Linked DNA regions of Homo sapiens. The protein of the gene in region 2 interacts with the protein of the main gene of each other region in a pairwise test. Each region holds a gene or a part of one and is shown on either strand. Other genes may lie near its edges. The genes, in order: LOXL3, APMAP and RASA4.

Region 1 (2,740 bases), on a different chromosome or scaffold from region 2:
CTTGGAGACATCTGGAGGGATTGGCATATGTCAGTGTAAGGAAAGGCTGTGCAATGGATACCATGTGGTTCACTTCAGTCCCCAACTCACCCTCCTGACACTCAGTGTCTTCGAGACAGAAACTAGCTTTGTGGCCCTCAGCCACCTTGGTGCCATTTGGGGTGAGGATATCATAGTGAGTGAAGATGTCCATGCTGTGGTAATGCCTGTGGGGAGAAGGGAACTTCTGTTTCCTTCTCTGCCCCCAGAAGGTTTGCCCCATCCCCCGTGGTCTTGCCCTTCTACTTGACTCCCTACCCTCTCACCCATGGCACTCGTGCCACACCCAGGAGTGGCGCCCAGCCTTGGGCCTGAAGTCAGCTCGTCCCAGGTTGTGGATCTGGGAGGAGAATCGGAGCAGACGCCGGTGACCATAGGGCCAGTTGGCTGAGCGGGCTGAGCTGGCCAGGCAGTTCTCTTCCGCAGCACAGTACAACATATGCAGGGGCCGGTCTTCGATGTAGGCGGTCTCCTGCACCAGTGCTGAGTGCAGCAACAGATCTGATGCAGCTGCACCAAGAAAGGAAGGGGGTGTTAGAAGTCACTGCTGACTTCACAGAGAGGGGTGCTTCCATCCCTCCCTAGTGTGTAAGACTAGTTTTTTGTTTTTGTTTTTGTTTGTTTGTTTGTTTGAGATGGAGTCTCACTCTGTTGCCGAGGCTGGAATGCAGCGGCGTGATCTTGGCTCACTGCAACCTCTGCCACCTGGGTTCAAGTGATTCTCCTGCCTCAGCCTCCCGAGTAGCTGGGATTATAGGCGCCTGCCACTGCGCCTGGCTAATTTTTGTAGTTTTAGTAGAGACAGGGTTTCACCATCTTGGTCAGGCTGGTCTTGAATTCCTGACCTCGTGATCCATCCGCCTTGGCCTCCTAAAGTGCTGGGATTACAGGCGTGAGCCACTGCACCCGGCGAAACTGGCTCTTTTATGGGGAAGAAGTGCCCCTCCAGATTACAGCCCCCTTTCCCTGCAAACGGGTGGCCCAGACACTCCCTTCCCTGGCATGCATCACCCCCTCCTTCACTCACTCTCAGAACAGATGACTCCAGCAGTGAAGCGGGTCCCTGTCCTCTTGCAGGTGATGTGGGTGCCATGATGGGCACACTGATCCAGGGACAGCTCAGTCCCTGTGCAGCGCACTCCACTCATCACCACCTCTGTTATATTCCCAGAGTCCCAGTACCAGGTCTCCTGGGGACATATGCAGATGTTTCTGTAAGGCCCAGGATCCAGCATCTTGGGCCAAGGGACTCATTCCTCAGCCCTCTGCCCAAAACACAGGCTTTGAGACAACAGCCTCGGCTCCCCTTTCCTTCCCACTCACCTGCAGGCCGTGGTTGGCGTAGCCCAGACCCAGTTGCCTACAGGCCACCATGGCCTCCAGGGTCCCCCAGTCATCCCCACAGATGAGGCCCCAGCGAAGGGGCCCAGGTCCCCCTATTTGCACCTCGACTCGCCCCTCATGTTGGCTGCGGCCCCCACTGAGTCGGATCTGTAGTGACACAGAATGGAAGCGCTGGAGAAAGCTTTGGGGTGAGGTAGTGGGAGTCTCTAACAGATGTGGCTGAAGCGTGACTCAGGCACATAATGGGCTAGCAAGTGATGGGTCAGGTGGGAGCTGCAGGAGGGCAGGGGCCTGGGGCAATGGGCTGGGGGCCATTGGACTGTAGATTGGAGACCAGACCTGGATAGGATGAAAGAGACCTCAACCAAGGTAGAGAGGATGACTGACCCTGGTCTCTGCCCCAGTGTAAGGTAGGTTGCACCGGACCCCGGCATCCTGGCTATGTGAACAATCCTCAGCTGTGATGTTCTTGTGGGGGCACTTCCAGAGGGAGAGCTCCTGTCCAGAGCAGCGAACTTCACTCAGGTGGATAGCACCCATGCCTAGGGCCAGATGGCAAAGATCAGGAAGTTGTAATTAAGCATATATTGTCTGCCCAGGGGACACCTAACCTTCCGAAGGAATATGCCCCCCAGGAGCATGTACCTCCTTCCCTCTCCCTCCCACCTCCATGCCACCTCACCCTGCCCCATGCGAGCGCCACTCAGAGCTTCTCGAGCACTCCCGAAGCCCAGCTCCCGACACACCACGCTGGCTGCATGCAGGTCCCACTTGCGGTCACAGACTGTGCCCCATGTGCTGGCCTTCAGGACTTCTACCCGGCCCTCTCCAGGGTGGGCGCCGCCCTTTAGACGGACACGGGCCTATAGAAGAGAGAAGTGCCCAACAGAGGCAAATGGCAACATCTGCACGGAGGGCTAAGCAGACCTGGGAGATGAGTGAGACTTTGGTGGAAGGGAGTGGGTGGTATCAGGTCTGTGGCCCACCCCCTGGAAGGCTCCTCTCTGTCCTCAAAGGTCAGGGCTGTGCTTAGTCTGGGGTTGCCAGGCTAGGGGTTCTCCACCTGGGGTGGGAAAGGTCATAATCACTGTCTCACACACCTCCCCCTGAGGCTTCGACTGTTGTTGCTTCTTCTGGCCACTGGATGCCGCGTAGACAGGGCCTGGCACACAGCTCACCACTGCAGGGCCCCCCCCAGGGCACCTGGCGGTGTCATTGGCACGATAGAACTCCAGGGAACAGAGGGAGAGGTGGGCCTCCGTGCCCACGCACGCCACCCCATGCAGACCAAAGGAGTGTTGCTGCCGTTGGGCTAGCAGCCTAGGGGGACAGGAGTGAGGTGCAGTAGGGTAAAACA
Region 2 (3,648 bases):
GCAGTGTTAACCACTGCCTTCTTCCTTTGCCATTTCCCTTTGCTGATGAGAATTCTGTGTCTATTTTTCTTCTAATAATCTTCCAAAAATGAATTTTGTCCCTAACTTCCTCCCCTTCACTCATAAGGGGTTCAGAGCTCACCCCGTACACCTGAGGCCAGGTAAAATGCCACATTGCCAGTCCTTACCCCTTTTATTAGGTGGGAAAGGAGGTGGTCCAGACCCTACAAACACAAACAAAATGCCACAGACACACCAGGGAGAGGCCAAGGGAGCCCAGCTCCTGGAAGAGGGCAGGTGAGAATGAAGGGGAAAGTCAGGTCAACCTCTCCCTCCCAGTCCTGTCTCCAAACCCCAGGACCAAATAATCTTCTTCTAATGTGACTGACTTATACCAGTCATGGGTATAAGCACCACAGGCATAAAAATGTCTACAAAGCACAGAACTACGACCTGACATGACGGCAGGCTCATGCAACCTGAGAGGTCTGCAGCAGGGAAAGGAGTAAGGGCCAGGAAAAGAGGAATGGCAAACAGTCCAAATGAGAGTATGCCAAGAAATGTGCTTTACGTGGGCAACCAGATGGAACCAGGTATCTCTCTCCTTCACAAATGAGGGAAGTGGGCAGGGAAAGGCTCAAGTGGCTTTCCCACAGCCAATGCAAGAGCTGGAAAAGCGCAACTGAGAGCCAGATGTGACTCTATGGCTGCGGTCACCATTAGAAGCGCTGCCTGCCAAGAGCAAGAGGAGGGAGTGGAGGATGCCCAGACCTAGAGCCCTCAGAGCGGGAGTTTGAAAGCTCTGTGAAAATTCATGGTGATCTGCCTATTCTAGGCATTTCATATAAGTGGAATCATACAACAAGTGACCTTTCATGACTAGCTTCTTTCATTCAGTGTGTTTTCTAGGCCCATCTAAGTTGCAGTATGTATCTGTACATGGTTCCTTTTACCAGTTGATTATGTATGTATCTACCACAACTTGCTGCCCACTCATCTGGTTTTTTGTTTTTTAAATATAAAGACACGGTCTCAGTATGTCAACCAGGCTGGAGTACAGTGGCATGATCATATCTCACTGTTATCTCAAATTCCTGGGCTCAAGTGATCCTCCTGTCTCAGCCTCCCAAAGTAGCTAGGACTACAGGTGTGCACCACCACACGTGGCTAATTGTTTTACTTTCTGTAGAGAAAACATCTTGCTACATTGTCCAGGCTGGTCTTGAACTTCTGGCCTCAAGCAGTCTTCCCACCTTAGCCTTCCAAAGTGCACCCTGAGATGAGCAGGCATGAGCAACCATGTCTAGCCCCACTCATCTGCTGAACATTTGTGTGGGAGGGGGAAATGGGAGTGATTACTTAATCAGTACAAGGTAAACACCTTGCTTTTATGGGGTGATGAAACAGTTTTGAAAGCAGAGAGAGTTGGTGGTTGCCCAACATTGTGAATACACTAAATATCACTGAACTGTGCACTTTAAAGTGGTTAATTGTATGTTATGCGAATTTCACCTCAACTAAAAAAAAAAGTTGACAGTGACAAGAATGTTCTAAACTTGGATTGCGGTAATTACTGCAAAACTGGCCATTATACTAAAAATCACTGATTTGAACATTTTAAGTAGGTTAATTTTATGGTATGTGAATTACATCTCAATAAAGATGTTAAAAAAAAACAAAAACAAAACAAAGTCAGTGACTCCACCATGCAAACTGCCACTCCAATGGCTAGGACACCCTTCAACCCAAGTGATTTTCTTTAAGTGACCTAAAGTCTTCCAACACAATAGAAATGAAGTACTTGTACAATAAAGCAGGGCTGGTTACAAGTAAATGACAGAAACGCTTCTGACAGTGTGAACCCCAAAGAGAGACAAAGCATATGGAAAGGTGGATGGTGAAGATGTGTGGCTGCCAGCCCTGAGAGCTGCCCTCACTGCACTCTGGTACTGAGTCCAACAGGGACTGCCTGCCTTAAAGGAAGCTGATGCCATCACCCACCCCACTCCCAGGAGAGAAGAGTCCCTCTAGGGAAGGTACATTGTGTTTTCACCTCATGACCTTCATTATAAACAGTAACAATCTTGCCAAAACGCTACTTTTTCCTTGCCTAACATCATTCTACCTAAGGCAGATTTTCCTCATCTGTCTTGACTCCAACATTGTGACCTCTACTTTACCACACTGCAGCTTATATTTTTAAAATCTTGATGTGGTAATCTGATTCAGAGCTGGTGGCACCCCATTTAAATACCTGGTTGCCCCTTCACACAATAGTTAGAGGCTCAATTATGTCCCAAACAAAAAGTCCAGCCAGGACTGAAAGCCACGGGGCTTACAGCCAGAAAGGAGGCCAAAAGTCCATTGACAAAGATTTGTGTCCCAATGCTGCGGGATCTACCATACCAGTAACACTCTCCTAAAGCTGGAGAAGAATTTAGAGGCCACTCAGTCTACTGTTCCCAAAGGCAGCCAACTCCTGGATGGGCTACATCAAGATGACCTGGGCCAGAGATTCTGCTTTGGTAGGTACAGGGTGGGCCTGCGAACTCTTTCATCGGTTGTTCCTCATGTGCAGCTGGACACCACTAACTCTATGCAGCTCCCTTCCCAGTCAGACTTCACCAACACCTCCTCAACCTCACCTGATCAGCATCCAGCCTCCACTGGAAAGTTCTGTGGTCACGTATTAGAAATACTAGCTTAAATTTAAACAAAACTCCTTGAGCTGCACTGTCCAATAGAACTTTCTGCAACGATGGAAATACAATAGCTACTAGCCATGTGTGGTTCCTGAGCACTTGAAATGGAGTTAGCTTGTTATATAAATGAGGTAAGCACAGCTCCTGGACCCCTGCTCTGGGTGCCACACTTATTTTAGCCCAAGGTCCATTAACTTTTCGGCAGGCCCTCATCAGTGTTGCTTCCTGTAAACTCACAGTTAACCACAATTCTTCTGTCTTTTCTCGGTGTCTGCCTCCCTCTTACTCTTTTTTTAACTTAAATAAAGAACACTGTATCGATCCCTATCCATTTTCACTGACAAAGCATTGCAGGTTCCCAACCTGTGCTGACACATCCAGGAACGCTGGCAACTTAGTTCCCAGGCGCAGTTTGAGAAATCAGTTTGTTTGCCCCAATCTCTCGGAAGAGCCTGGAGGGATGCCCATCTCCATGAGGACATCTGCACCCTGAAATTGCCTACACTCTCTGAAGGCAAGAGCACAACCACAGTGATGCAACAGGATTTGACAACTGCTGTTGGCTGGGCCATGATTTACACAATCTTCTGTAGATTCACCAGCCAATTTGGCAGATTTTGAAGGGTATCCTCTAACTCTGCACACAGGACATTAGGGCCTTGGGTCCTGAACTGAAGTCCCAACAAGCAGACTCCAAGAGATCAAAATTCACCTGTGATTGTTGTGGAAAACCTGATAGCCCCAAATCCATGGGGTACCAGCAACCTCATGTGTCAAGGTGATCCCTGGAACCTGAGAAAATCAGATAGCATCAACCCATCTTTTTTAGTGACAGCATCTTGAATTTGTTCATTTTTCACAATCCTTTAAACTGGGGCTCCTAGATTCATCAATTTATCCTTGAAAAAAATTAAGAAATCAAGAAACAAGTTTAAAAAGCCATCTG
Region 3 (4,419 bases), on a different chromosome or scaffold from region 2:
GCTCATGCCTAGGTACGTGGGGACGAGAGACAGTGGGAAGAGGCAGGGCAGGAACAGGCAGGCTCTGAAAGCTAGCAGTGATGGGGAATGCAGCTGCGCTCTGTGCCCTTTAGAGGAATAAAAACCCATGAGTAGAAGTGGCAGGAAGGCAGCTGGCAGCTGTGTGAGGACAGCTTCCTCCTTGGAACTGTCTCAGTCAAGATGAGCCACTATGAGAGGTGGTAAGCTCCCCGTCCTCAGAAGTATGCAAGCCCTGGCTGGAGGAGATGCTACTCAGAAGATAGGCGGGGTGCTGGTGAGGCACAGTGAAACTCCAGTACTCAGTGAGGGCCTCCCATGATCTCCAAACCCCTGCCCGACTCTGCAGCCAAATGCTTTGCATAGGATTTCCGAGGCTCAGTCTCACTGAGCCCAGCCGCAAGCTTACAGCCGCGGGCAGGCTAGAATTCTCAGCCTGTCGGCAGCAAAGGCAATCTGAATCCTGACTTCTCTACCTACCCTCTTGGCAAATGGCTTTCACTTCCTGAGCCTCAGTTTCCCAATGTGCAAACCGAGGATGTCTATCTTATAAAGCTAAGAAGAGGATTAAGTGGGGGAAGTCCTCAACACCTCTTATTCTCCCTACTATGGACCCGGTGCCAGGATGAATGAGTCACAGTCCCTGCCCTCACAGTCAGCTGGGACAGGCACCACTTGACGGAGGAACTGCCACACCAGGGGCTTCCTCCTGCCACCCAGAGTGCTGGGGGGCGAGCCCAGGAGCCAGGAACTCTGCCCAAGTGCACCAGGGAATGCCCTGGAGAGGAGAAGTTTGAGAGGAGTCCTGAACATTGAATAGGAGTTTTCTGGAGGACTGAAGTGGAGTGCTTGAAGGCAGAAGTCCCCACACATGGGCGAAAGCAGAGATGTGAAGGGTAGTAGCCCAAATGTGAGGGACTGTTTATGGGATGGTTTAAGAGGCGGCTGACAGGTCAGAGCTGTGTATGCAAGCCACAGGGGAAGATGGGGGGTTGCAAAGGAGACGTGAGTAGGGCAGGCAGGGGGGCAGGGTGAGGATCGAGATCCCAAGGCACCCCTCCACTGTAGATGGAACCCCTTTGCCCAGAGGCAAAGCACTGAGCAGGGAACCAGGCACTGGGCTCCCAGGTGGGCATACTCCAAGAGCTTGGCTGCCCTGGGCTGGAGAGAGCCTGGAGCCAGGCACTAGGGCCAGCTGCTGTGGGGATGAGGAGGGAGGCGACAGACGGAGGGGCTGCTCCTCCCAGCTGCCACCAGCCAGAAGAGGCCAAGATGACCTAGTTCCTAGTGCCAGTGGTGGCAGGGGGTGGGGGATGCTTAAAGGCTGGGCCTGGAGGCTGAGACCCTTCTCAGAGCTCCTCTGCCTTCCCAGCCCACAGACCTCACTGCCAGCTCCCACTCCACCTCCCTCCAAGCCTCCAAGCACAGAAACCCACCTAGGGATGCCCACCGCCCTCCCTTCCCCATTGTCATGGTAACTGCTGAGCTGGGCCTCATCAGACCCAGGGGGCCTGGAACTGGCACTGCTCTCGGTGGTGGCGCGCTGAGCTTGCTGGGAAGCTCACAGGGGCCACCACACATATGTGTGAGCAGAGTGCCTGCCCCCCACCCTGCTCCACCCCCTCGCCCATGCTAGCCACTTCTCTGCATCCAGGAGCCCGGGGCGCCCAAGGGGTGGGGAACTGCAGCTCCGCAGACTTTGGACTCTGTTTCCTCCAGGCTCCACTTTTCCCCCTCCCACCCTCCTCCTCCAGGCAGCCAGTGCCCCTTGACCTTTGAGCTTTCCCCCTCTTCCTCTAGAGGGATTTCAACCCCTAGTTTAAAGAGGGGAAACTGAGGCTCTAGGAGCAGGGAGCTGCCTAAACCCTGTACATGAGGAAGGTGGTGGCAAGACCAAGATGGTGGGCCAGGGGTCAGGCAGCTCAGCCCTGGGACCTACTGAGAAGAGTGGAACAAGGGGCCCCTGAAACCTCCCCAAATCGAGCCAGGGACCAGGGGAATCCCCAGATGTCAGTGCCTGTGAGAAGCCCTAGACTCAAGACCCTGCTCTGCCTGCCACTTGGAGCCAGCATTTCACTTCTCTGAACCTCAGTTTTCTCATCTGTAAAATGGAACGGTGAGAACTGCCTTTCGGGGTGGTTGAGAGGATTAACGGGATGGCTCAGGTGTAAAGCCCAAGGCACAAGCGACAGTTACTACCCTCCTTCCCTCCCCCACAGTCCTGCACCTGTCCTGGCCTCCTGACCTGTTCTCACTTTTCATGCCAGTCCCTCCTACCCGAGTGCACAGCAGGAAGCCCGGGGACAGCCCCTGGGCCCCAGCATGTGCTTCAGGTGCACACTCCGGGGCATTAAGGGCTCTGGAACTACTGAGGAAGACCCTTCCTTTGCGGGGGACACCCCACCCCCTCCAACCCCACCCCGGGGGCAGATCACCAAGACGTCTCCCCTGGCATGTCACCAGGCTCCAGCTCCTGTCGTATCAAAGCCCCTTCCCCTCGTGAGCCGCGGATCGCTGACAAATTCTCGCCCCCTCCCTAGTTCCCAGCCCCCAGCCCTCGGTGACACTTCCCCGCCCCCCGGTTGTCACCCCGTCTGGTGCTCGCAGAAAATGTCACTGTCCCCATTTTCCCCGCCGATCCCCCACCACGGCCGCACTCCCGCACCCTCTCCGCTGCTCTTGTGGGTGGACCCCGGAAAGGTCAGGCGTCCTGGGGGGCAGTGCCCCTCCCCGGAAAGTTGGGGCTCCCACCCCCGGCCGCGCTCACATGTCCTTGGCGGGAAGGTTCTTCCCCTCCACGATGCGGATGTACAGCGAGCTGCGCTTGGCCATCGCGGGGTCCCGGCTCGGGGGAAGCCAGACACCGGGGTCCGGGGTGGCGGGCGGCGGGCGCTGGACTGGGCGCCGCAGGTGGGGCGGGCCGGGGAGGAGGCGGGGGCGGGGGCGGGGCGGCGGGGGCGGGGCTTCGCTGCCACTCCACTCACCCCGCCCCCGCCCCACGTGCGGGGGACACTGCGCCCGGGCCGGCCAATCCGCGACCGGGGTTCCCCAGGGCGGGGAGGGGCCGGCCGGGGCCGCAGCTCTCATTGGCCGTCTGGGGCGTGAGGGGCGGGGCCTGTGAGGAGGCGCTGACACTCGCCGGGCAGCCGGCGCGGTGGCTCGAGGGGGGCGCCCCTGGAGGAGCGGGTGGGGGACACTGCAACCTCCACCTCCCGGTTTCAAGCAATTCTTCTGTCTCAGCCTCCCAAGTAGCTGGGATTGCAGACACGCGCCACCACGCCCAGCTAATTTTTGTATTTTCGGTAGATACGGGGTTTCACCATGTTGGCCAGGCTGGTCTTGAACTCCTGACCTCAGGTAATCTGCCCACCTCGGCCTCCCAAAGTGCTGGGAATACAGGCATGAGCCATCGTGCCTGGCTGTTTTTATGTTTTTTAGAATCAGAAGAAAAAAAATATGTATTTTTTGTATTGGTTGGTTTGTGTGTGTATGTATGTATGTATGTATGTATGTATGTATGTATGTATGCATGCATTTGAAACAGGGGCTTGCTCTGTTGGCTGAAGTGCAGTGGTGCAATCATAGCTCACTGCAGCCTCAATCTCCTGGGTTCAAGCAATCCTACCACCTCAGCCTCCCATGTAGCTGGGACTACAGATGCATACCACCACGACTGGCTAATTTTTTTTATTTTTAGTAGAAATGGGGGGGTCTCATTATGTTGCCCAGGCTGGTCTAGAACTCCTGGCCTCAAGTTATCCTCCTGCCTTGGCCTCCCAAAGGGCTGGGACCACAGATGTGAGCCCACCATGCCTAGTCAAACAGGAGTATAATAGTAATGAATATGTAATAATGAATCTGACCTGACTGGTATCAGTCAGTCTTTATGCCAAAGCAGTTGTAAAATACACATTTGAATATCTTTTTTTTTTTCTTTTTTTTGGGGTGGAGTCTCGCTCTATCACCCAGGCTGGAGTGCAGTAGCGCAATCTCAGCTCACTGCAACCTCTGCCTCCCTGACTCAAGGCATTCTCCTGCCTCAGCCTCCCGAGTAGCCAGAGCTTCAGGGACCTGCCACCACGCCTGGGTAATTTCTATATTTTTAGTAGAGATGGAGTTTCACCAGGTTGGCCAGGCTGGCCTCAAACACCTGACCTCAGGTGAGCTGCCCACTTCGGTCTCCCAGAGTGTTAGGATTACAGGCGTGAGCCACCGTGCCTAGCCGTATTTGAATATCTTAACCCATATAAGTCAAACATGCCTAGGGCTCACAAAAGTTACAGTGCATCCTGGCACAGGAGAGGAGGCAGCTCTTGAGTTTCAGTGCATGCTTTTGATATTCACTATAGGTCAATGTCGTTGAAAGAAAAAGTGTTTGAGGCTGGGCACAGCGGCTCACGC

Evidence for each region.
Region 1: the proteins of APMAP (region 2) and LOXL3 interact in a two-hybrid assay, tested with the Homo sapiens proteins (one large-scale study listed by IntAct).
Region 3: the proteins of APMAP (region 2) and RASA4 interact in a two-hybrid assay, tested with the Homo sapiens proteins (one large-scale study listed by IntAct).

Annotation. Positions count from the first base shown.
Region 1 is NC_000002.12:74,534,226-74,536,965, forward strand, and holds part of LOXL3 (lysyl oxidase homolog 3 isoform 1 precursor), read right to left. Parts: intron 2,704-2,740; coding exon 2,484-2,703; intron 2,247-2,483; coding exon 2,066-2,246; intron 1,926-2,065; coding exon 1,771-1,925; intron 1,531-1,770; coding exon 1,363-1,530; intron 1,230-1,362; coding exon 1,067-1,229; intron 550-1,066; coding exon 306-549; intron 207-305; coding exon 91-206; intron 12-90; coding exon 1-11. UniProt on the Homo sapiens protein: Protein-lysine 6-oxidase that mediates the oxidation of peptidyl lysine residues to allysine in target proteins.
Region 2 is NC_000020.11:24,986,120-24,989,767, forward strand, and holds part of APMAP (adipocyte plasma membrane-associated protein), read right to left. Parts: intron 1-3,648. UniProt on the Homo sapiens protein: Exhibits strong arylesterase activity with beta-naphthyl acetate and phenyl acetate. May play a role in adipocyte differentiation.
Region 3 is NC_000007.14:102,613,840-102,618,258, forward strand, and holds the start of RASA4 (ras GTPase-activating protein 4), read right to left. Parts: upstream 2,918-4,419; 5' UTR 2,851-2,917; coding exon 2,786-2,850; intron 2,707-2,785; exon of another isoform or gene 2,684-2,706; intron 1-2,683. UniProt on the Homo sapiens protein: Ca(2+)-dependent Ras GTPase-activating protein, that switches off the Ras-MAPK pathway following a stimulus that elevates intracellular calcium. Functions as an adaptor for Cdc42 and Rac1 during FcR-mediated phagocytosis.